3 linked regions of the Homo sapiens genome follow. The protein of the gene in region 2 interacts with the protein of the main gene of each other region in a pairwise test. Each region holds a gene or a part of one and is shown on either strand. Other genes may lie near its edges.

Region 1 (7,597 bases), on a different chromosome or scaffold from region 2:
GTTTCACCGTGTTAGCCAGGATGGTCTCAATCTCCTGACCTTGTGATCCGCCCGCCTCGGCCTCCCAAAGTGCTGGGATTACAGGCGTGAGCCACCATGCCTGGCCAAAACTCAAGACTTAAGTCATTCATTACAATTTTGTCTGAATTGCAATTAGGAGAGAAACAGCTGCAGTACCTTTGTATCTTTGTCAGTGAAATGTTTATAACAAGGAAAAACAAAAATCTGTTTGAAATCTCCAGTAAGCGCCCCCCAGTGCACCATCTAGTGGAAGTCAGGTAGTGTCATAATTAATTTAAAGAAAAAAGTCACAGAAACTCTGAAAACCATTGGGGGAGGGGGAGAAGTCAAAGCTTCAGGTAAGAATACAAGCAAATACTTTACAAACAGCCAAAATATCTTTCCAGTGTCCCACAATGCAAGAGGGCTGGGCTTATGAGAATAAATGATTCATTTTCTGTATAATCAACAGATGATAAAAGTTCCTTTATGGAAATTTTTGCTTGGGTGCTAGAAATTTTGACAGGAGAGTAAAAGTTAAATAAAGCCACTAAAACATAAATAAGTAAATAAATGCTGGGCTAGAGTGACAGCCTTGTGTAAGAAGAGTTGCCTTATATGTTACATGAATATGTTAAAATGTACATGTGAAACAGAGGTATTAGCCACAAAACAAGAGATAACTTCATGATTAGAACAGTTACATTCAGGCTGGGTGCAATGGCTCACGCCTGTAATCCCAGCACTTTGGGAGGCCAAGGCAGGCAGATCACTTGAGGTCAGGAGTTCGAGACCAGCCTGGCCAACATAGTGAAACCCCATCTCTACAAAAATATTAAAAAAAAAAAAATAGCTGGGCGTGGTGGCATGCGCCTGTAGTCCCAGCTACTCAAGAGGCTGAGGCAGGAGAATCACTTGAACCAGGGAGGCAGAGATCACAGTGAGCCACAGCACTCCAGCCTGGACAACAGAGTGAGACTCCACCTCAGAAAAAAAAAAAAAAAGAGTTCCATTCAGTAATCCATAAGACATTTTCATGTTCCTGATAACTAGTAAATTTAACAAAACCTAACGATTCTCTAGAATTCCCTAAGCCTTAACATCATACAAGCGGCTACTCCCAACTACCCATTTCAGCCTGTCCCACACTAATGCCCAAACTCCTTTGGTCAAGTTATTCTAATTAAGAAATTATTCTTCAATCCGTCTATAAATTTACAGTAAACACTTCCCGAAACAAAGTCATAAGTCATGATCAAAATGCATTACACTTCATTAGTATTTTCCTTCTGCATATCAATTATTTCTATTCAATTCAAAAAAAGGTACCGAAATTCAATGCTGAGCTAGAGATGCAAACACAAATAAGGTTCTCTAATTTGGAAAGCTTCCCAAAATTTAAAATAGAGATTTTCACACAGCATTCCTAACTTTTGTTTGTTTTGCCTGTGTGGAAAATTACCTTTCACCTGAAATTCAAACTAGCTAAGCAACCTGAATGGAAAGAAAAACCTCGCAGATAATATTTCTTTACTTGAAAATAACCATCTCCACCTCTGACCTGTGTATACGGGATCAAATTGGTATGCAGAAGTTGGCTTGATGGCGGGAATCTTACCCAGATTTTGGATTAAATCCATTATAGGTATAAAATAAAGTAGGAGTAAAGTGGGGCAGGATTCCTTTCATTTCTAGGGCTTTCAGTTGACATACCTGTAAAATGGACATGCTATGCACAGCCTGCCTCAGAAGAGTAGGAGGATGGCATACTATATAATTGATAGAGTGCTATGAGCTTCACGATTAAATGGAAATACTGTTTTTATAGAACCAGAGTGAACCTGAGCATAGAAAACTCTCCAAGGGCCATCGCTGTGACATTACCGCTAAAACTCAGTGACCTTCATCAATTCACTTGTAAACAAGCAATATATTGAGCAAGTCAAAGGAAAGGCAGCAACAATTCAAGATACTTCTTTATAAGTAAATCAAATTACGTAATTAATAGCCCAGGATTTACCTGCAAACTATTACTGCCTGACTAGCAGGTGCATCCCCAAAGCCTCGAGTACAGAGACTGTTTTTAGAGAGCCCCCCCTTTTTTAAATGTGAATATTGCTTTTAAAAATTAGAAAAAGAAAAAAATCACAATTCTACTCCCACCCATGGCACAGTGACAGAAACAAGGTCCCACCCCCACAATCCTTTCAAACCTGCACAGGCATTCCTCACGAACACTCCTCCCCCTCATTCCTACCTCACCGCTCCCCACTTCAGCCCAGACAAAGCTGAGTTACTCGGCTGGGTCTACCTGTCACTTAAGAAAAAGCCCCCAAATAGATTCACGCTAAATGCTGCTTTTAATTTTTTAAATAGCAAATAAGTAAATAAATAATGCTATCGTGTAGATTACACGGCCAAACGCCTGTTCTCAGAAAACATGTAATTAACACGACCCAAGTGAAGACGCCTTTCTGGCTTAGGGAAAGAAAAAAAAGAAGCCAGCCAGCTTATCGCTCCCTTTCAGTCGGTTCTTTTCCCCGGGGAGCCGGACTCTGACTCAACTCCGCAGTTTTTCCTCCACCTGTCGGTTCTCCCCGCTCTGGGTCTGCCCCGCCGCCGCCCCCGCCCGGAGTCCCGCGCGTCAACAGGGGTCTCCAGGGGTCCTCAGGGTCCCGCCCGAGGCGGCCCCGCCCCTGCCCCGGCCCCGCCCCCACCTCCTCACAAGGTGCCCGCCGCGGGCTCCCAGGCTGAGGCGCCTAGAGGCCGGCAGGAGGCTCCGGAGGACCGCGGCACCGCTCGGCCCGGTCGCCGGCGCAGGGAGCAGCTTCGGGGGCCGACCCCACCGCCCGAGCCTAGCCCTGGGCTCCGACAGGCGCTCCCCAGAGGCGCCCCATTACCTGCTCTGGGCTGCCGCGGTCCGCGGGCAGGAGGCGCACTCGCTCTGGCCCCTGCAGCCCCGGGCCCGGAGGCAAGGAGGCAGCGACCGCCACCGCCGCAGAGGACAATCGGGAGCCAGCGGGCTCGGCACCGCCGCGGCGGGCGCAGAACGCACGAGCCCAGTGGGAGCCCGGCCCCCGCCTCCAGCCCGGCTAGTAACCAACACGGCCCCCACCCTCGGAGGGGCGGGACCGCGGTTGGAGGGGCGGGGCGGGGCTGCACCGCCCGCGGGTAAGAGGGGCCTGCTGATAGGCTGCGAAGGCGATAGGCGTCTCAGACTTGAAGACGCCTCTCCAGCAGAACTCCCTCATTGGTCGGCAAGAGAAAACAAAGCTGGGCTCTGATTGGTGACAGCTCTGTAGCTCCTCCTCATACCCGCAGTCCCCGCAAGTTCCACCCCTGCCCGCCCGGTTCGCTCGCCCTTGGTTCCCACTCCCAGGTGGCTGCAGACTGGAGTGTGTTTCATGGACGAGCAACCTCCCTGAGGAGAACCCCGGATACGCAGGTTCATTCGCCAGATGCGAGTTTTCTTAAGCCGCTGCGATTCTCTGATTTCAGTATGAACTTGGTGAATAACGTAATCTTTAACTTCCTTTGGATTCAGACAAGTCTCCTAGGTTTAAAAATGCTGCATAAGATTGAGAGGGATATTGTTATGCACGAAAAAAGACATAAGGTGTTTTCACCTTTGGCGACACTGTAGGTGACTTTTTCTTATTACCTTTTTGTGTTCCATATTGAACATGTACTACATGATTAGAAAAAAAAATTCTTAAATAGAAAAATGAGTAGGGTGCGGAGAATGGTAAAGACAAACTTTAAGGAAATCCAGAGAACTGATTCTTTCACAATAGAAGAAAATACAGTAAACATGCTTAATATCTGAGGGCTACCCCGAAAAAACATGAACTGGTATCAGCGCCCTTCAGCTCTCTTAAAGAACTTTACATATGTGACCGAGGTGCCCCCATACTCCTTCCTATCATGTAACCAACACATAATGTGGACAGCACTACACTGCAAACAGAATTACAGGAAGACTCTTATAGGAAGAATTAGAATCCAAAGTACACAATCAATAAAGCTTTAGAAAAAGGGGTAGTAAAAAGCAGAAGACAAAAAAAAATCAGGTAATATAAATTGGAAAGCTCAGCTGATGGAGGGAATCATCAGAAAAAAAATAATGTGACAACACTTCAAGATGTGATAGAGACTTTGAATGGAAAGCTGAAGGGAGAGGAAGGGGATTGAGATAAGGATCAATGACCTGCAGTTAATATGAGCTCTCAGAACACATCCCCCAGAACTGGTGTCAGCCTAGAAGGCAAGAAGCATTTCTCACCTAGGGACCACTCTCACTTAACTCTCTCTAGCTGCCTTAACATTCTGTTTGTTCTTGTCATTCTCGCAAAGTTCTAAAACAGGCTATTTGAAATTAAGCACTTCCCCCCAGCAACTCCGTGAATTACGTAATAGTGAAAAATGGAGATAGACAAAAAGCAAACCTGAGGAAGGAAAGGAATGTTAAGGTAAACATAAACTTAAAGAGAAGTAAGGGCAAAACACCTGATAGAAAGAAGACAAGAAATTCTTTTTTCTCTCTTACTTCCTGAGAATAAAGTAAAGGTCTTTGGAGGACAGAATAACCTTATTGCCTAACAAAAAGAGTTTTTACCAAACCTTTCTAATAATAACTGTAATTCTAAACTGTAGTCTAAAAATACGTGTCCTAAAGTAAGTACTTTGAGCAAATAGTTTTGAGATCTAATATTTTTACATTGTGTAAGGAAAAGAAGAGGAACTTAGCCTAGTATGAACAAACTGTAGGGAATACCCTTCAAAAGTTTCTTCTACAATAACACCTGAAATTCCATCACTAACATTCTTTCACTGGGATTAAATAATGTATGTCTAAGATTATTCTTTTATTCATTTACTCATCAAACGTAATCAATATTAATCATCAAATACTAGATACTGCAATGAACGAGGCTTTCTACTAAGCACTCAGAGTATAGCCTTGAACAAGACAGACTTGCAGCTGTTTTTATCAGAAGATGGACAATGATCCAATAAAAAGATAAACTTCCAGACCGGGATCAGGGCAAAGAAGAAAACAGTGACCAGAGGGATGGGAGACACACTTAATTTTGGGAAAGGAGAAAAATGCTTTAAGGAGAAATGATCTAAGAGAAATGCTCTAAGATTTGAGGCACCACCTAAATAAGAAAACACCAACTTAGCAAAACTCCAGGGCAGATAAAATAGCAAGAACAAAGGACTTGAAGTAGGAAGAAAAGTGATGTATAGCAGGAACAGAGAGAAAGCCAGCATGGGTATCATGGTGCATAAGGAGAGTGCTACTAGACAGGTTGGAGAAGGAGGTGAGGACCTCGTAGGCAATGGTAACTTTGTATTTTGTTACAAGGATTCCTGACGGGCAACATCGAGTTGCTGATAGTGGAGTAAAATCATTATTTTTTTTTTTCCTTTTTCAGAGTCACCAGTAAAATGAGCATTCATTCATTAAGCCAATCATCAGGAATGGATCTAGGAAGAACCTACTGTTTACTAGAAATAGGTTAGATCTGTGGATATAACAATGAATAAGACAAGACTGGTGGATCTATAGAGAAACTATTACTGCACAGGTGATGGGGAAATCAAGAGTACTATGGGGCCAAGGAGACTGTCCTGCAGCAAATGAGGAATAAGCTGAAACATCAGTAGGAGCCATCCCAGAGAAAAGGGACAGGGTTCTAGATCCAGAGAACAACAGAAGAGCATTCAGCGCCTGCAAGGGAGCAGGGGATCTAATGCAAAGCCATTGCATAACCAGTCAACTTTCCCCACATCACAAGATTGCCTAGCCTGGATGGCCCCAGAATGTTGAAACAAATGTCTAATTAGTAACGACATTCTGAATGCTTGGGAGCTGAGCAAAATATGAGGAGAAGCAACCTGATTTTTGTTTCATATTATCATCTCCTTTATTCCAGCAACAAAAGACACTGAAAATAGTAAATGCCCACTTTCAACCATGACAGCCCTTTTAGGATAGTAACGGTGAGCAGTATTAATCCTATTTGACCAGAACTAGGGCAGAATTGAAGCCCCTGGAGTAGAGATCTGTTCTATTAGCCCCAGCCTTTCCGCCTGCTTCTTGGGATGGCTATCTTTACTTTATCAGTTGAGCCTCCAGCATTAGCAGATACCTATAAGGGAAGAGATCCAGCCCTCACTATGGAGGGCCAGAAAGAGAAAGCACCAGACATTAGGAAATGTCAAAGTATCTCAGTACATCCAGCTGATTAGTGACAGATAAGTCAAAATTTGCAGCAACTAAATAAATCAAAAAGTAGATTTTAAAATGTGATCTTTGAAATATTTGGCACAATGCTTCAAAGCCACTGAAAAGCTATCTCTTCACCCTAATAGAGGACAGAAATTCATTAGATAGACAGAAGAGGCTGCATACAGTAGCCCATGCCCATAATCTCAACAACTTTGGAGGCCAAGGTGGAAAGATTACTTGAGGCCAGGAAATCAACACCAGCCTGAGCAACATAGCAAGACATCTTTACAAAAAATTTAAAAATTAGCCAGGTTTGGTGGTGTGCAGCTGTAGTCCTAGCTACTCGGGAGGCTGAGGTGGGAGGATTGCTTGAGGCCAGGAGTTCTAGGCTGCAGTGAACAGAGATTTTGCCACTGCGTTCCAGCCTGGGCAACAGAGTAAGACCCTGTCTCTAAAATAGATGATAGATAGATAGAGAGAGAGAGAGAGATGATAGATAATAGATAGTTGATAGATAGATGATAGATAATAGATAGTTGATAGATAGATAATAGATCGTTGATTGATAGATTAGATAGATGTATAATAGAACCCAAAGGCAAAAATAAGTTAGTCCTCAGGAAGACCCAGATCGCAGACCTGAAAAGCCAGGAGGAACTCAATGGAATTTTTTTCCATAGCAGGTGCTCTCTCTACACCTGTGCTCTATTCTCCTATTCTGATAACCAGCCCCTGGCTCCTATGTCCCAGTGTCAGAGAAATGATGTTCCAGAGCTGCACCCACAAGGACTAAATCACCTGCCTAACCCTAACCCTAATCATAGATGATGGGGGCTGCAGGGGACCAGTATGGCTGCCAGGGCCCATCCCTGTTTATGAGCAGAGGTTTCCCAGAGAAGACACACTGGGCAGATTACCAGACACGCATTCATTGCACCCCTGACATTTTCAATCGCCAGTCAATGAGGCTTCCTTTCTAGTTACTGAAAGTCTTCACCTGCTGTTTATAGTAAACTGGAGACCTAGAGGCCAAGGCCGAAGGCTTGGATGGTAATTTCCCACATTCTCTGGAAATCTTTCTACTTCAGTTGGCTTCCAGACACCCAGTACCCTTGTGTGTTCCAGTTTCAAGTTGCCATTCTTGTTCAGGTCTTCTAGTAATTTCCTGTTTCCCTATCTGAAGTGTACCTCCTGACATCAATGTATTCAAAGAGCAAATGCTCCTGCCAAATCTATGAGTGTCAGTGAACTAGCCTGCTGCTCTGGGCTCAGATGAGACCAGCTTGCAGAACAAGCAGGACAGAGGCGTGAAGGGAAGCAGATGGCAAACCTCGATCTGCCACCATCCCTTCCACAGGCATT
Region 2 (7,623 bases):
AGCATGTGGAAAGAATACCCAAGTAGCTGGGATTACAGGCACCTGTCACCAAGCTCAGCTCATTTTGTATTTTTAGTAGAGACAGAATTTCACCATGTTGGCCAGGCTGGTCTTGAACTCCCAGCCTCAGGTGATCCGCCTGCCTTGGCCTCCCAAAGTACTAGGATTACAAGCGTGAGCCACCACACCCGTCTGGTTAAGTTAAATATTAAAAGCTGAAGCCGGGCACGGTGGCTCACGCCTGTAATCCCAGCACTTTAGGAGGCCGAGGCAGGTGGATCACAAGGTCAGGAGTTGGAGACCAGACTGGCCAATATGGTGAAACCCCATCTGTACCAAAAATACAAAAATTAGCCGGGTGTGGTGGTGCGTGCCTGTGGTCCCAGCTGCTCGGGAGGCTGGGGCAGAGGAGTCACTGGAACCTGGGAGGCAGAGGTTGTGGTGAGCCGAGATTGTGCCATTGCACTCCAGCCTGGGCGACAGAGCAAGACTCCGTCTCAAAAAAGAAAAAAAAATATTAAAAGCTGATAGAGCCAGTGCCCTTATACAAAGGCTGGAATGTAACAGAAGCCCACTGAGAGTTTTGCCCAGGCCTTTCCTGGGCCTTGAAGCATGACAAGATAACGAAGGAATCGATTAGGACCTGTTTAGGATTAAACAAGTTTTATGGGGGTCTGAAGGAACTCCCAGGCCTCCACAAACAAGTTTATTGAGGGTCTGAAGGAACTCCGCAAACCTTAATGATTTAGCAGGAGAGACAAGATAAGGGTAATCACCCCAGCACCCGGACCCATCTAGATTAGGTAAATTTACTGAGGCACCAGAGGAAGGTCTTAAAACTCAGACCTTAGTTATAGATTTGAAGAAGTTAATCACTTATGTTTTTAGATGAATAATGCACACCTATACGTAGACGTATAGCTTAGAAGGTATATAAGCTCTGGAAAACTTTGTAATTTTGAGTTGGTCTGGAGATATTTTCTAGGCCTTCTCCCTGTACGCAGAAATAAAAATTCGCTTCTTTCCCAGTAAATCTGCATCTCGTTATTGGGCCGCAAGAAGCAGCAGCCGACCCTCCGTTTGTTCCGGGAACAGAATCATCTCATCTAATATTTTGAGACTTCTCTCTCAAGACTGATATCCACTGCCTCTGTGCTTCTAGTTTTCAAGTATCCAACATGTGTGGTCCACTGAGTATTTCTCTATCATCACCCTCTACACCATGTCTACACCTTTAGGCTCCAATAAATGTCCTTGGCAAACTTTCAGGATGAGACTCCTCAGAACCTCCCAGCTGTTGTGGATTCCTCTACTTCCACACCCCAATTGCTCTGGGTATTAATTGGATATATGCTGTTATCTCCATTTGTCATTGATTAACCAAAAGAGTAGCAAAGAGGCCAGTGAAAGAGGACCCTGAATACGAGGTCATCTCAGGTCACCATACTGAAGATAAATAATTTTTGTAAATCACTTATTATGTCTATTTATACATTTGATGAAACAGTCATTCACTCTGCTGATAATAAGAGCAATCATTGCAAACGTACAGTGCATGGTGAGATTTGTTACACTGCACATAAGGTAGTCAGAGCAGGTATTTTTGATAATATAACATGTAAGGAGAGAATTTAATAAAATCGTACTAACATCAGAGAAACATTTCATGCTGAGAGAAGAGCAAATGTGAAAGCCCTGAGGCATAAGCTGTTTGGTGATTTTAATACTGAGGATGTGTTTTGGCGTGGGAAAGAAAAGCCAGGAGAGATGATGGGTCACACAAAGATCTTGGTAGAAAAGACCTCAGTCTGTTTTCTATTCATTGAAAGTAAAGAAAAATGATAACCAATGCACAGATAAGAACAGAATTTGTCATATGACATGAACTGGCAGTAAAGTATTTAAGGTGATTATGAAAAGCCCTTATTACCAGGTAACCAAACACCTTTTCTTATTTCTCCCCTTTTTTTGTCCTTAATTATTTTCATCTTGCCCATTTTCTAATTGTGCACAATCAATATCCTTTCTATTTCTACCTTTCTTACTTGGTCCCATTTTAACCTTCCCAATCATGCAGGGATCTGTGAACAAGAGGAACCTCAGCAGCCAGGACAGGCAGGAGCAGTGGAATAGCTACTATGGCTTCTGGAATCCTGGTTAATGTAAAGGAGGAGGTGACCTGCCCCATCTGCCTGGAACTCCTGACACAACCCCTGAGCCTGGACTGCGGCCACAGCTTCTGCCAAGCATGCCTCACTGCAAACCACAAGAAGTCCATGCTAGACAAAGGAGAGAGTAGCTGCCCTGTGTGCCGGATCAGTTACCAGCCTGAGAACATACGGCCTAATCGGCATGTAGCCAACATAGTGGAGAAGCTCAGGGAGGTCAAGTTGAGCCCAGAGGGGCAGAAAGTTGATCATTGTGCACGCCATGGAGAGAAACTTCTACTCTTCTGTCAGGAGGACGGGAAGGTCATTTGCTGGCTTTGTGAGCGGTCTCAGGAGCACCGTGGTCACCACACGTTCCTCACAGAGGAGGTTGCCCGGGAGTACCAAGTAAGAGACTGGGATGGAAGGAAGAGAGGGCAGAAAATGGGACCAGATGGAAAATTTTCACTTTGCCTTTGACATTAACTGCCTTGTCATGATAGACCTGAGACCCGGGATTATTTTTTTCATGCTATGCTTAACTTCTGAGGCTTTAAGGATGGTTTTTTGCATTTCACCCAATTACAGGAGAATAATCCTAGAGTATATATTCCTGGCCGGGAGTAAATATTTTGTACCTTGGGTTAGATGGGTAGAGATTTGGTGTCCAAGAAAAGCTCTGATTACCCCTTTCAGCAGGAGAGTAACAGGAGTGGGTTGAGATGTAAGTTTTTTCCTTGCTGCAGGATTAGTTTTTTCTTCTAGGACAAAAAGAATCAGTCTACTCATGGTGAGGAGATGGGGAGGTCTATTACCTGAGATGTAGGGAGCACATTCACCAATGTAAGTTTTCTTCCAAGTCATGGATTCTCATTGCCATTCTCACAGTTTCTGCAAATTTGTTTCTTCTGAGATCAACCTGATTTATTTCATGTTTATACTCTATCTAGGTGCTGGAAAACCTCATAGCTTGACTATGGTGTGATTCCTTTCTCACAGGTGAAGCTCCAGGCAGCTCTGGAGATGCTGAGGCAGAAGCAGCAGGAAGCTGAAGAGTTAGAAGCTGACATCAGAGAAGAGAAAGCTTCCTGGAAGGCAAGAGGATGTGGTTCCCGAAGGAGTTAGCTAGAAATCTGGGCAGGACCAGGGGAAGGAGCTTTCTTCCTCTTTATTCCCTGACATTTGATAAGTCCAGAAGTCATTTGATTAGTCCTCTTCATCCTTTCCCTGATGGGGTGTGGTGGCTGAGGAGTGAATATGTCACAGTGAACACAGTAGGGAGCTCTTTACATGAAGGATCTCTCTGGTGAGGATGGCTAGTGAATCCTGCATTCTATTTTTGTGCTACTTTTTGAGTCCGTGACTCTACTTGGGGAAGACATTTGGCAATGGCTCATGATTCTGTCCTCAGTGTTCAACTTTTGGCAGGGAGTTTGAGCTTGGGCTGAGAAGTAATACAGGCAGGCATGAGTGTCCTGCATAGCTGTGTGAAAGGTAAGCTACATCCAGGTAACCCATTTTGATGCAGGATGAACCTCAATATACCCATTCAAGGTCATTGTTTTAAAATGTCATGAAGGAAAAGAAATAGGAAAAGGCAGCTTTCCTAAGACCTACTCTCCTGCTACTATGTCCCCTCCTTGTGAGAACTCCCCAAAAGAAACAGCTCCTTTTCTGGCTAACAGCCTCTGCCTGGTAGACTGAGTGCCCCTTTCTCTTCTCTTATCTCTGAAGACTCAAATACAGTATGACAAAACCAACGTCTTGGCAGATTTTGAGCAACTGAGAGACATCCTGGACTGGGAGGAGAGCAATGAGCTGCAAAACCTGGAGAAGGAGGAGGAAGACATTCTGAAAAGCCTTACGAACTCTGAAACTGAGATGGTGCAGCAGACCCAGTCCCTGAGAGAGCTCATCTCAGATCTGGAGCATCGGCTGCAGGGGTCAGTGATGGAGCTGCTTCAGGTAAAAAGTGGAAAGAAGCCTGAGCACTGAGATTAAAGAAAAGTGAAGGCTATTTCCTTCTCTGCGTTGCTGTGCTTTTTCTAATATTAACAATGTTCTCTGCAGGACCGCTTTTCTGAATCAATTGCTGAAGTTATAAGAATAATTGAATGTAGAAGTAGCAAGAGATAATCCCATTTTTATTAATTTATCCAGAGCAGTAGAAAAATTTGACGTAGTGGAGATGATCAATTAGCTCTAGTCATGTTTGATAGGTTCCTATTCTCTGTATTCTAGTGTTGAGACTTACCAGTGCAGCTTTTCATTGCTCAGCTTAGCCACTGGCAAACAAATACACGTCAAAATACAAGATGCTTTTTATTTTTTTCCTTCATGGAATTAATTGAGACTTTTTCCTTTTTTTTTAATTTTCTGAAAAGAATTAAATAACTGCTATCATTTCTTCTTTATATGCTCAATAGAATTCACTAGTAAAGGCTGGGCGCGGTGGCTCACGCCTGTAATCCCAGCACTTTGGGAGGCCCAGGAGGGCCAGTCATGAGGTCAGGAGGCCCAGGCGGGCCAGTCATGAGGTCAGGCGATTGAGACCATCCTGGCTAACACGGTGAAACCCCGTCTCTACTAAAAATACAAAAAATTCTAGATCCCTGAGGAATCGCCACACTGACTTCCACAATGGTTGAACTAGTTTACAGTCCCACCAACAGTGTAAAAGTGTTCCTATTTCTCCACATCCTCTCCAGCACCTGTTGTTTCCAGACTTTTTAATGATTGCCATTCTAACTGGTGTGAGATGGTATCTCATTGTGGTTTTGATTTGCATTTCTCTGATGGCCAGTGATGATGAGCATTTTTTCATGTGCTTTTTGGCTGCATAAATGTCTTCTTTTGAGAAGTGTCTGTTCATGTCCTTCGCCCACTTTTTGATGGGGTTGTTTGTTTTTTTCTTGTAAATTTGTTTGAGTTCATTGTAGATTCCGGATATTAGCCCTTTGTCAGATGAGTGGGTTGTGAAAATTTTCTCCCATTTTGTAGGTTGCCTGTTCACTTTGATGGTAGTTTCTTTTGCTGTGCAGAAGCTCTTTAGTTTAATTAGATCCCATTTGTCAATTTTGTCTTTTGTTGCCATTGCTTTTGGTGTTTTAGACATGAAGTCCTTGTCCATGCCTATGTCCTGAATGGTACTGCCTAGGTTTTCTTCTAGGGTTTTTGTGGTTTTAGGTCTAACGTTTAAGTCTTTAATCCATCTTGAATTGATTTTTGTATAAGGTGTAAGGAAGGGATCCAGTTTCAGCTTTCTACATATGGCTAGCCAGTTTTCCCAGCACCATTTATTAAATAGGGAATCCTTTCCCCATTGCTTGTTTTTCTCAGGTTTGTCAAAGATCAGATAGTTGTAGATATGCGTCGTTATTTCTGAGGGCTCTGTTCTGTTCCATTGATCTATATCTCTGTTTTGGTACCAGTACCATGCTGTTTTGGTTACTGTAGCCTTGTAGTATAGTTTGAAGTCAGGTAGTGTGATGCCTCCAGCTTTGTTCTTTTGGCTTAGGATTGCCTTGGTGATGCGGGCTCTTTTTTGGTTCCATATGAACTTTAAAGTAGTTTTTTCCAATTCTGTGAAGTCATTGTTAGCTTGATGGGGATGGCATTGAATCTGTAAATTACCTTGGGCAGTATGGCCATTTTCACGATATTGATTCTTCCTACCCATGAGCATGGAATGTTCTTCCATTTGTTTGTATCCTCTTTTATTTCCTTGAGTAGTGGTTTGTAGTTCTCCTTGAAGAAGTCCTTCACGTCCCTTGTAAGTTGGATTCCTAGGTATTTTATTCTCTTTGAAGCAATTGTGAATGGGAGTTCACTCATGATTTGGCTCTCTGTTTGTCTGTTGTTGGTGTATAAGAATGCTTGTGATTTTTGTACATTGATTTTGTATCCTGAGACTTTGCTGAAGTATACCATTTGACCCAGCCATCCCATTACTGGGTATATACCCAAAGGACTATAAATCATGCTGCTATAAAGACACATGCACACGTATGTTTATTGTGGCATTATTCACAATAGCAAAGACTTGGAACCAACCCAAATGTCCAACAATGATAGACTGGATTAAGAAAATGTGGCACGTATACACCATGGAATACTATGCAGCCATAAAAAATGATGAGTTCATGTCCTTTGTAGGGACATGGATGAAATTGGAAATCATCATTCTCAGTAAACTATCGCAAGAACAAAAAATCAAACACCGCATATTCTCACTCATAGGTGGGAATTGAACAATGAGATCACATGGACACAGGAAGGGGAATATCACACTCTGGGGACTATGGTGGGGTGGGGGGAGGGGGGAGGGATAGCACTGGGAGATATACCTAATGCTAGATGACGAGTTAGTGGGTGCAGCGCACCAGCATGGCACATGTATACATATGTAACTAACCTGCACAATGTGCACATGTACTCTAAAACTTAAAGTATAATAAAACAAAAACAAAAACAAAAAAAACACAACAGAAGAAAAAAAAAAAAAAAGAAATGCAAGAAAGCTAGCACCCCCAGGGGCATCCTTCAACCAATGGGGTTGGGAGTTGATGGAGAAATGCCTCAGCTCTCAGTGTTTCGGGCAGAGATTCTGGGGCATTCCCAGGAGGTTTGGTGGGATCATGATCCCATAATGCCCAGAAACAACCCCAACAGCTTACTCATACATTGGCTTCTCCTCCTCCCTGTCTTACCTCCCTGCTCCCTCATTCCTGCTTCCTGGGGTCAGGTAAATCACCTGGACCCAGGTCCTTGTCTCAGGCTCTACGTTCAGTGTTTCTCATGCTGTATTCCTCGGAACCCCAGGGCACCTTAGGATGTGTCTACCCCTCTCTCACCTGCATTTGATTTAATGCTCTGTTGTCATCATCTTGAAATGTTTAATAAATTTTGAACAAGGGGCCGCATATTTTCATTTTGCATTGTACCCCACAAATGAAAAAAAATAATACAAAAAATTAGCCAGGCGTGGTGGCGGGCACCTGTAATCCCAGCTACTTGGGAGGCTGAGGCAGGAGAATAGTGTGAACCCGGGAGGCGGAGCTTGCAGTGAGCCAAGACTGCACCACTGCACTCCAGCCTGGGCAACAGTGCGAGACTCCATCTCAAAAAAAAAAGAAAACTGCTCTTATCCCAATTTTCAAGAATACAATACATTGTTAACTATAATTGCCACATTCTGCAATAGATCTCTTGAAGATAGTCATCTTTTCATTCTGAAGTTGGTGTCCTTTTACCAATATCGGCCTCAACTCTCCCTACACCCCAGCTCCTGGAAACCCCTCTTCCACTCTCTACTTTTATGAGCTCAACTATTTTTTACATCTACATACTAAGTGATGTTATACAGTATTTGTCTTTCTGTTCCTGACTTACTTTACTTAAAGTCCTCCATGGTGTGAGATAGTCTTCTGCATATGGCTATCCAGTTGTTCCAACACAACTGAGAATGGTCCTACCA
Region 3 (7,922 bases), on a different chromosome or scaffold from region 2:
GAGGGTGCAGTGAGCCAAGATTACGCCACTACACTCCAGCCTGGGCGACAGAGCAAGACTGTCTCAAAAAAAGAAAAAGAAAAAAAAAGTATGGCATAGAGGGGTTAAATAACTTTCCCAAGGCACACAAATACGGGGAGCTGAGGTGCAAACCCAAGTAGTCTGATCTACAGCCTGTGTGCTTAACCACCACACCACACTGCTTCCTAGACAAGTAAAAATTGCCCCAGGAACATGAAGGCAGAGACCCTATTTGTATTCTAGATAGCACTGGCCTGGCACAAAGTAAACCCTCAATAAATGTTTGTTGAATGAATGAATGAATGATGTGGAAATACTTTTGTAAATTGAGAAATGCTCATGTAGACATTCTTATTGCTAAGTCCTTCAACTAATAGAAATTCCATTGATCTCACACTTTTGTCTAATGCTTAATACATTTTCCAGGGAAAAAGAAAAGAACTAAGGCAGGACACTTATTAGAGGCAAACAGTAGCTTGACAAACCTGGCCTGGGACAGATTCAAGAGGTCCGGCTAGGAAAACTCCCGAGGTTGGCATCTTGTCCATTAGAGCCTCCAGAACTTGGAGAAAGTTCCATTCTACCCAAGGAATCATCTGCCCACCCCCATCCTCTATCTTTCTATCTATTCTATTTAAATTGTCAGTTTACATGACACTTTCAAGCATTTTTCTCATGCAGATGGGAAAATATTTAAAATCTGGGTGGCCTCAAGAGAAAGGCCTGATACAAATAATATAATACTTCTTACTTCTGAACGATGGTTGGATACACATATTCATGGCAAGAGAACAGCCTTTTGTCTTCCTGGCCCACTTACTGTCTTTGGAGTCATTTCTTTGGGTATGGCCTGGGCGGTCCCAGCAGGAAGGCTGTGTGGGCTTCTCCCCAGTGAAATCCAGAACCATGAGCCATTCTTGCCCTGTTTCACACGGTCAGGAGGGAGAAAGGGCGCTGGCAGATGAAGGAAGCCCAGAGCTGGAAGGGACCCTAGCCAAACCCTAACATTTTACAGTCAGCTGGATTCTGGTGCCCTTTCCACTGTATCCTGGGGGCTTTCTCACACTTTTGCAATGGAGTGAATCCCTTTTTAATGATCTCCCACTCCTTCCAAAAAGAACACTTATTTACTTACTTTACCTACAGTTAAGATGGGCTTACAGGCATTAATATTATTGTTCAGTTGGCTCTTCTGGAGGTATTCTGATTAGCCCCATTTTACAGGTGGGAAAACCAAGGCTCTTTAAAAAATGAGACAAGCTCTAAATTCTGGGAAACCCCAGGTCTCTAACCCCAAATTTGTGGGGCTCTTGCTGTGTGTTAGGGACTATTCGGTGCGTTACCTATATGAACGCCTGGGTGCTGGCATTATTATACCTATTTTTTTGGATGTGGAAACTGAGCTCAGGGTGGGTATTTGAGCACAGTCACAGAGCCAGAACTCAAATCTGGCTGTCACACAAGGCCATCCCTCTTCTGGAGTGCCACTTGTGGAATGCCCAGGTGGATCCCTGCCCTCCTCAGGGGGTGCGTGTGGGCGGAGGGAATGCTTTATCGGCCAGGCATACATAAGCCTTCACCTCTCCAGGACCAAGAAAGGCGGTCTTGCAGTCTCCCTAACTCCTTCGCGAACTTCCCGTAGGTGGTCAGGGCGCTCGGCGGCAGGACCACGGCCCAGCTTTGTCTCCCCCACCTGAGGAGCGTGCACCAGGCCGCGCCCCGCACCACCCCACCTCCGCCCACAAGGCCCGCGACCACACGGTCACCCGCGCCCACGGCCGCCTCCATCTTACATTTGGGGATCATTATTTATTCCCCGACCTTGGAAACACTTCATGAGCACCGTGCTCGCCCTACTCCACCCCTCCCACCCCGACTCCCCTGCCCTCCGCATCCCCTTCCTCAACTGCCAGAGTCGGGATCCCAGGTGGGTGCAGGATTCAAAGTGGAAGGTTTGGACACCGCAGTCCCAGTTCCCGGTCCCTCTGAGCCGGGGCTGAGGGGATTCCCCGTCATCTGGAAAAGCCAACGGGCTTCAGCAGGGCCAGGGCACCGCCTCGGCTGGAGAGAACCCGCCCGGGCCACACACACCTCTCGGGCAGCTCAGAGAGGCAGCGAGGGCAGCGCGGGGGCAGGGGGAGAGGCGTGCCGCGTGTGCGCGTGAGTGTGCGCGTGTGAGGGTGAGGGTGTGAGCATGTGTGTGTGTGTGTTGGGGTGTATGCGCAGGCGCGCGTGCGTATTAAGATCCGGGGTGTAATTCCGCAAAGAAGGTCCAGGAGATCGGGCATCGCTAGTATGGACAGAGCTTTGTGTCCAAACAGGCAGTGCAAGGACTAACCCGCGAGGGCGGGGAGTGGGGTTCTCCCGGGAGGGGCAATGCGAGGAGCCGAGGCTGGGCACCGGAGGGGAGCGGGATTCCTATCCCGGACGGGACGCCTGGATGTGGGAAGCTCCGGACCTGGGCTCCTGCCGGAGGGTCCGTGCGCCCCAGACCCGGCTGGTCCGACGCGGGTGACACCCACACCCCAGGGATGCTCCATGCCAGGCACCGCGCACGGGCCGCGAGGTCGGGTTCCCGAAACGGCGCCCGCAGCAGCGGGGAGAGGAGTGGCCTTTAGGGGGACGCCACACCTCCCGCCCCGACCCGGCTCCCCGGATCCTCCGGGCGCCTTGCCCGCCGCCCACCGGGCCCCACCCGGGCAGCGGAGCCCGCACCGCCCGGCCCGGGGCTTCCCCGGCGGAGCACGCGGGGCGCGGGGCGCGGGTTACGGCCCCCCACTCTGCGCCCACCGCCGCCCACCGCGCGGGAGCTCGGGCGCAGGGACGCACCGCCGCGTCCACACTCCCGCCGGCTCCGGCGGTCCCTCCTCCAGGCACTCACAAAATTGTCGCCGCAGCCGTTGTCCGGACACAGCACATAGAAGGAGACGCCGGGGTCGGCGTAGAAATCCATCCTGCGTTCGGTCTCCTCGGTGGCGATGAGCTCGAAGGGCGTGTTGGAGCACCATTTCTCCGCAACGTCGGCCAGCTGCTGGAAATCCATCGCGGCCCCGCGCCCGCCTCCCGCCGCCGCCCGCCCTCCCGCTCCTAGGCGCCCTCCTCCCGGGCGGGCAGCGCGGCGCTCGGCTCGGCCTGCGCGGGCTCCTCCGGGGCCGGGCTGGGCCGGCTGGGACTGTTTACATGCGGTGCGGAGTGGGGCGGGCGGCGGCCGGGGACAGCGCGGCGCCGCGCCCGCGGCTCCTCCTCCGCCCCGCCTCCCCCCGCCCCCTTGCGGGCCGCCGTGGGGGTTGGCGCGGCCGGGCCGGGACGCGGGGCGGCGGGAGGAGCGGCCGGCACCCCCGCGGGCGCCCGGATTTTCCTGGGCGCTCCCGCCCCCCCTTTATTTTTAAACAAACCCGGAGCATCCCGGGGCCCTGGCCATCGCGGTGCCGCCCCGGGCCGTGACGTCATGGGCCCCAGCCAATCACCGGAGCCTGAGACCGCGCCGCGGCTTGCGAGCCCGGTGACGTCACAGCGCGAGCCTGGAATCCGCAGCTCCGCGGGTTACCTGGAAGCGGTGCGAGCGCCCAATACCTGGTTAGCGTTTCTGTGGAGTTAGAAAGCCCAGGAAGCGTTTGCCCAAATGCGATTTAAATGCAAGGGAGGCCATAGAACTGCAGATAACTTGGACCTTGTCTGGGGCTAGCAGTGGAGGAGCTGAGAAAATCTAAGGAAAAGGGAGCTTTTCTTTTTGCAGAAACCAAAGTTCTGTTCTCCGATTGATTTAAGGGAATGTGTCTTCTTAATGCATTTATCAGACACTAATATGAATGTTCACTTGCAAAGGGCGTGTGTGATTTTTTATTTGCGTTACGTAAAGCTGAATATTTCTTAGAAATGAGCCTCATAAGACTGGCTTCAGTATTATTCAGCTTGAATTCACATTGCATAACCTAAAAAGGTCAAGAGGATAAAGCACATTTTAAAACAAGAGTGTGTGGCCCAACGATTGCACCTGTTGAGTGCTCACTGGCTGCCATATACTGGACAGGCATTACTGGATTGCAGAAAATGCACTAGGGTCCTCGCCCTCAGGACTTGAACACTACAAACACAGACACGTTATAAACATTCAGCCAGCTTTTTTCTGTAAAGTGTGTCTTCTGAACCAGGCACTGTGCACGAATTTACATTCCCACCAACACGTATATATGTTTCCTTTTCTCTGCACCCTCACCAACATCTGCTGTTTTTTGACTTTTTAATCATAGCCATTTTGACTGGTGTGAGATTGTATCTCATTGTGGTTTTAATGTGCATTTCTCTGATAATTAGTGGATGTTGAGCATTTTTTCATATGTTCGTTGGCCACTTGTATGTCTTTTTTGAGAAATATCTGTTCATGTCCTTTGCCCACTTTTTAATGGGTTTTTTTTTTTTCTTGTTGAGTTGTTTGAGTTCCTTGTAGATTCTGGATATTAGTCCTTTGTCAGATGCGTAGTTTGCAAATATTTTCTCTCATTCTGTAGGTTGTCTATTTACTCTGTTGATTGTTTCTTTTACTGTGCAGAAGCTTTTTAGTTTAATTAAGGCCCATTTGTCTATTCTTGTTTTTGTTGCACTTCCTTTGGGGTTTTAGTCATAAATTATTTGCCTAGGCCAATGTTGCAAGGAACTGAATTCTGCCAACAACCCGAATGAGCTTGAAAAGCAGATTTTTTTCTCAAACTTGTTGTCTTTTCCAGACAAGAACTGAGCCTGACTATTACCATGATTGCAGCCTTCGCAGAACCTGAGCGAGAACCCAGTGATGCCATGGCTGTGCTGGGACTTCCGACTTTCAGAACTGTGGGCTATTAAATGGGTGTTGTTTTAAGCTGTTAGGTCTGTTTAAATTCTTCATGCAGCAGTAGAAAACTAATACACAGGACAATGAAGGAGACAGGCACATGAATATAAAAATGCAATATGCTGTTGTAAAGTTACAAAATGGTCCTTAAAAAAAAAAAGTATGGGTGTCTCCAGATAGCACAAGCTTCCTTGCAGTTTTACCTGGCACCACCATTTAAAGCATAATATGTGTTCCAAAAATGAATTCCTTAAATTGGAGATGAAAATATGAAAAATACATTCCTTTTTTCCTTTTTCGGGAAAGAAGGAGTTTTTTTTTTAATCCATGTGTTTTAAAATGTATCAGTCAAATTTGCTCCAAGTGATGTGATCAGAATTATGAAGTTATGTTTATTTAACAAATAGTTTTTGTCAGAAAATGAAAAACTCTTATGAAAAATAAAATTTTGGGTACAAAGCAATTGGTCAATGAAATGGATACCGTTGGGTTTCCTTAGAAATGCACTGAGAGCAACAGCAAAAGCTTCAGAACTCCATGTCTGCATTGATTCCTCCCTCTGCCATTTTAAGTTTTATGTGCATCTGCAACTTCCTTCATTGCTCGGAGCTCAGTTTTCTTTTCTGAAAACAGGGACAACAGTGAGATAAAGTATATAAAGTCCTTATCCCAGAACCTAGCACATAGTAAGAACTCAGTAAATGCCATTATTACTCTTAATCTACTTCTTAGGGATGATGTGTAAGAAGATCAGCTAATGAATTTTTAAAGTGAAATTCAGGAGTGATATGACTGGTAATATTGGTCACAGATGAACCTAAATCTCATTTTTTTTTCCAAGTCTTTAGAGCAGGGTTTCTCAGCAGCAGCACTATTGATATTTGAAGCCAAAAATTCTTTGTTGTTGGAGGCTGTCCTGCACATTGCAGGATTTTTAGCCACATTCCCTGGCCTCCACCCACTGGATGCCTGTAGCATCTCCCTCTACCCTCCCCTCTCTCCACTGTGACAAGCAAAAATTTCTCCAGACATTGCCAAATGTCCCCTGAGTGCAAAATTACCCCTACTTGAGAACCACAGATTTAGAGAGAAAAGTCTTGCAACAGTCGTGTTTTGGTCATTTTTACTAACTAGTGGAAAGGGTATGCACATAAAGCAGCTGAAATTCATCCTGGAAAGTTCATCTGCAGAAGTTGCTTGAAATTTTGTTTCCTTAGAACAACTGGTAAAGCCACCAGTTGCTTAGCTAAGAAGATCATAAACCTTTGCCCTGCCTCCCTCCTGTTTGGGGAGAGTCCTGTGAGGCATCCCAGGTTGTAGGGGTGTATTTAGGCCTCATGCACAGGGCAGTGGTCATTTCAGAACTCTAGCCAGGTGTTTTGTGCAGCCAGTAGGTGAGGAAACACCAGGGCTACCCATACCCCCTTTCTTGTGTTCCCATAGCCTTTGGCCATGGTTTGGAAGTAGAAGGAAAATTAAAACTTCTCCCCAGCCAGGCGTGGTGGCTCACACCTGTAATCCCACCACTTTGGGAGGCCAAGGTGGGTGGATCACCGAGCCCAGGAGTTTGAGACCAGCCTGGGCAACATGGTGAAAACCTGTCTCTACTAAAAATACAAAAATTAGCTGGGCATGGTGGCATGTGCCTGTAGTCCCAGCTACTTGGGAGGCTGAGGTGGGAGAATCCCTTGAGCCCTCGAAGTCGAGGCTGCAGTGAGCCATGATCACACCACTGCCCTCCAGCCTAGGTGACAGAGGGAAACCCTATCTCAAAAAACAAAACAAACAGACAAAAAAACTTATCCCCACCAGTAGGCAGAGTTGTACAGTCTTCATTGTATTTAAGGAACGTTTCTGTTCATTTATAGAAATCTGGACTTTGCTGTCTCTGAAAATCACCATTTGCCTTTGGGAGATGTGTGTTGGCAAGAAGAGGAGACATATTCAAACCCCACTGGCTAGGACATCAGGAGCTCAGTATGGAATGCAAAGGCCACCCTAGACTGTCCTGCTAATGCTGACTCTTCTGCCCATCTCTGTTTTGAAGTTCTCCATGGCTTTTATTCTAGTGTAAGTTTGATGTTAACATATAATTTGACCTTTGATTCACTCCTATATTGTAAGTCCGTTAAATTAGCCCTAGTTTTTGATAAATCTGCTCCATCCACATAGCCTTGTGGTTATGCAGTAGGAGGAGGTAGGCAGAGAGGGAAGCGTAGCTGGTTCCACATTCACCCTTCACCTGAACGCAAGGTCGTCTCATTGTATCAAGAGGGACTGTAGACCCCAGGTTCCAGGAGACGGTGGTCAGGAGAGAGGTGTTTGATTTGTCACAGTTGTGATGGGAGAGGTGAAAAGACCATAGGATCTGGAGAAGTAACTCCCAGGAGAGCAACACAGGAGGGATGAGAGCTGTCTTCTCCCTGCACTGTGCTCCAGAACAGTGAGCCCAGCAGTGGGGCGGGGAGGATAAGTAGAGGGCAGACATGAGTTAAGCCTGCGCCATAGTTTATGTGTCACTGCAACTAGAGTCTGAAAGAAAATCAAGTTGGAAGATCAGCGAAAAGTTGAAGATCTATATAAATGAGTCATTGTGATTTACCCCAACTGCCCAGTAAAGCTCTGGAAAAGGATTTCCTTCAGCCTTCCTACAAAATTCATTCTGAATTTTGTTTCTGAATCTTCCAAACTTAGTTTTTACAAAATTATTTCTTTTTTGGACATTCCTCTGAAAGGTTTGGATGTAGAATTTGAGCGAGTTGGGGTTACATTTTGGCTACAATTGCCTTCAAAACATGCCTAGCTGATCACATTCACCTGGTAAACATTTTCCTTTTATATATATCAAAGAAACAGAAATACTTATGATTTAGTTTTTAGCTTCTTTATTCATTTGAACACTTCAATATTCTGTCTTCTTCAATGATTCCCCCTTGCCCGTATTTTCAGCTGGAACAGTTTCTCATTTTCCCTATTTCTGAACACTTTCAGGGGCTTCCTTCAGTGAAGCCCAACACACAAAACGTCCCTTTCAGCAAAATCTCAGCGGTGGTGCTAAGGGACTAACACAGAC

The links.
Region 1: the proteins of TRIM5 (region 2) and MPP7 interact in binary tests that used the Homo sapiens proteins (3 or more experiments, as listed by UniProt).
Region 3: the proteins of TRIM5 (region 2) and MTURN interact in binary tests that used the Homo sapiens proteins (3 or more experiments, as listed by UniProt).

What each region holds. Positions count from the first base shown.
Region 1 is NC_000010.11:28,299,961-28,307,557, forward strand, and holds the start of MPP7 (MAGUK p55 subfamily member 7), read right to left. Parts: upstream 3,105-7,597; 5' UTR 2,901-3,104; intron 1-2,900. UniProt on the Homo sapiens protein: Acts as an important adapter that promotes epithelial cell polarity and tight junction formation via its interaction with DLG1. Involved in the assembly of protein complexes at sites of cell-cell contact.
Region 2 is NC_000011.10:5,674,693-5,682,315, reverse strand, and holds part of TRIM5 (tripartite motif-containing protein 5), read left to right. Parts: intron 1-2,077; 5' UTR 2,078-2,138; coding exon 2,139-2,555; intron 2,556-3,146; coding exon 3,147-3,242; intron 3,243-3,881; coding exon 3,882-4,112; intron 4,113-7,623.
Region 3 is NC_000007.14:30,130,279-30,138,200, reverse strand, and holds the start of MTURN (maturin), read right to left. Parts: upstream 3,216-7,922; 5' UTR 3,065-3,215; coding exon 2,903-3,064; intron 1-2,902. UniProt on the Homo sapiens protein: Promotes megakaryocyte differentiation by enhancing ERK and JNK signaling as well as up-regulating RUNX1 and FLI1 expression. Represses NF-kappa-B transcriptional activity by inhibiting phosphorylation of RELA at 'Ser-536'.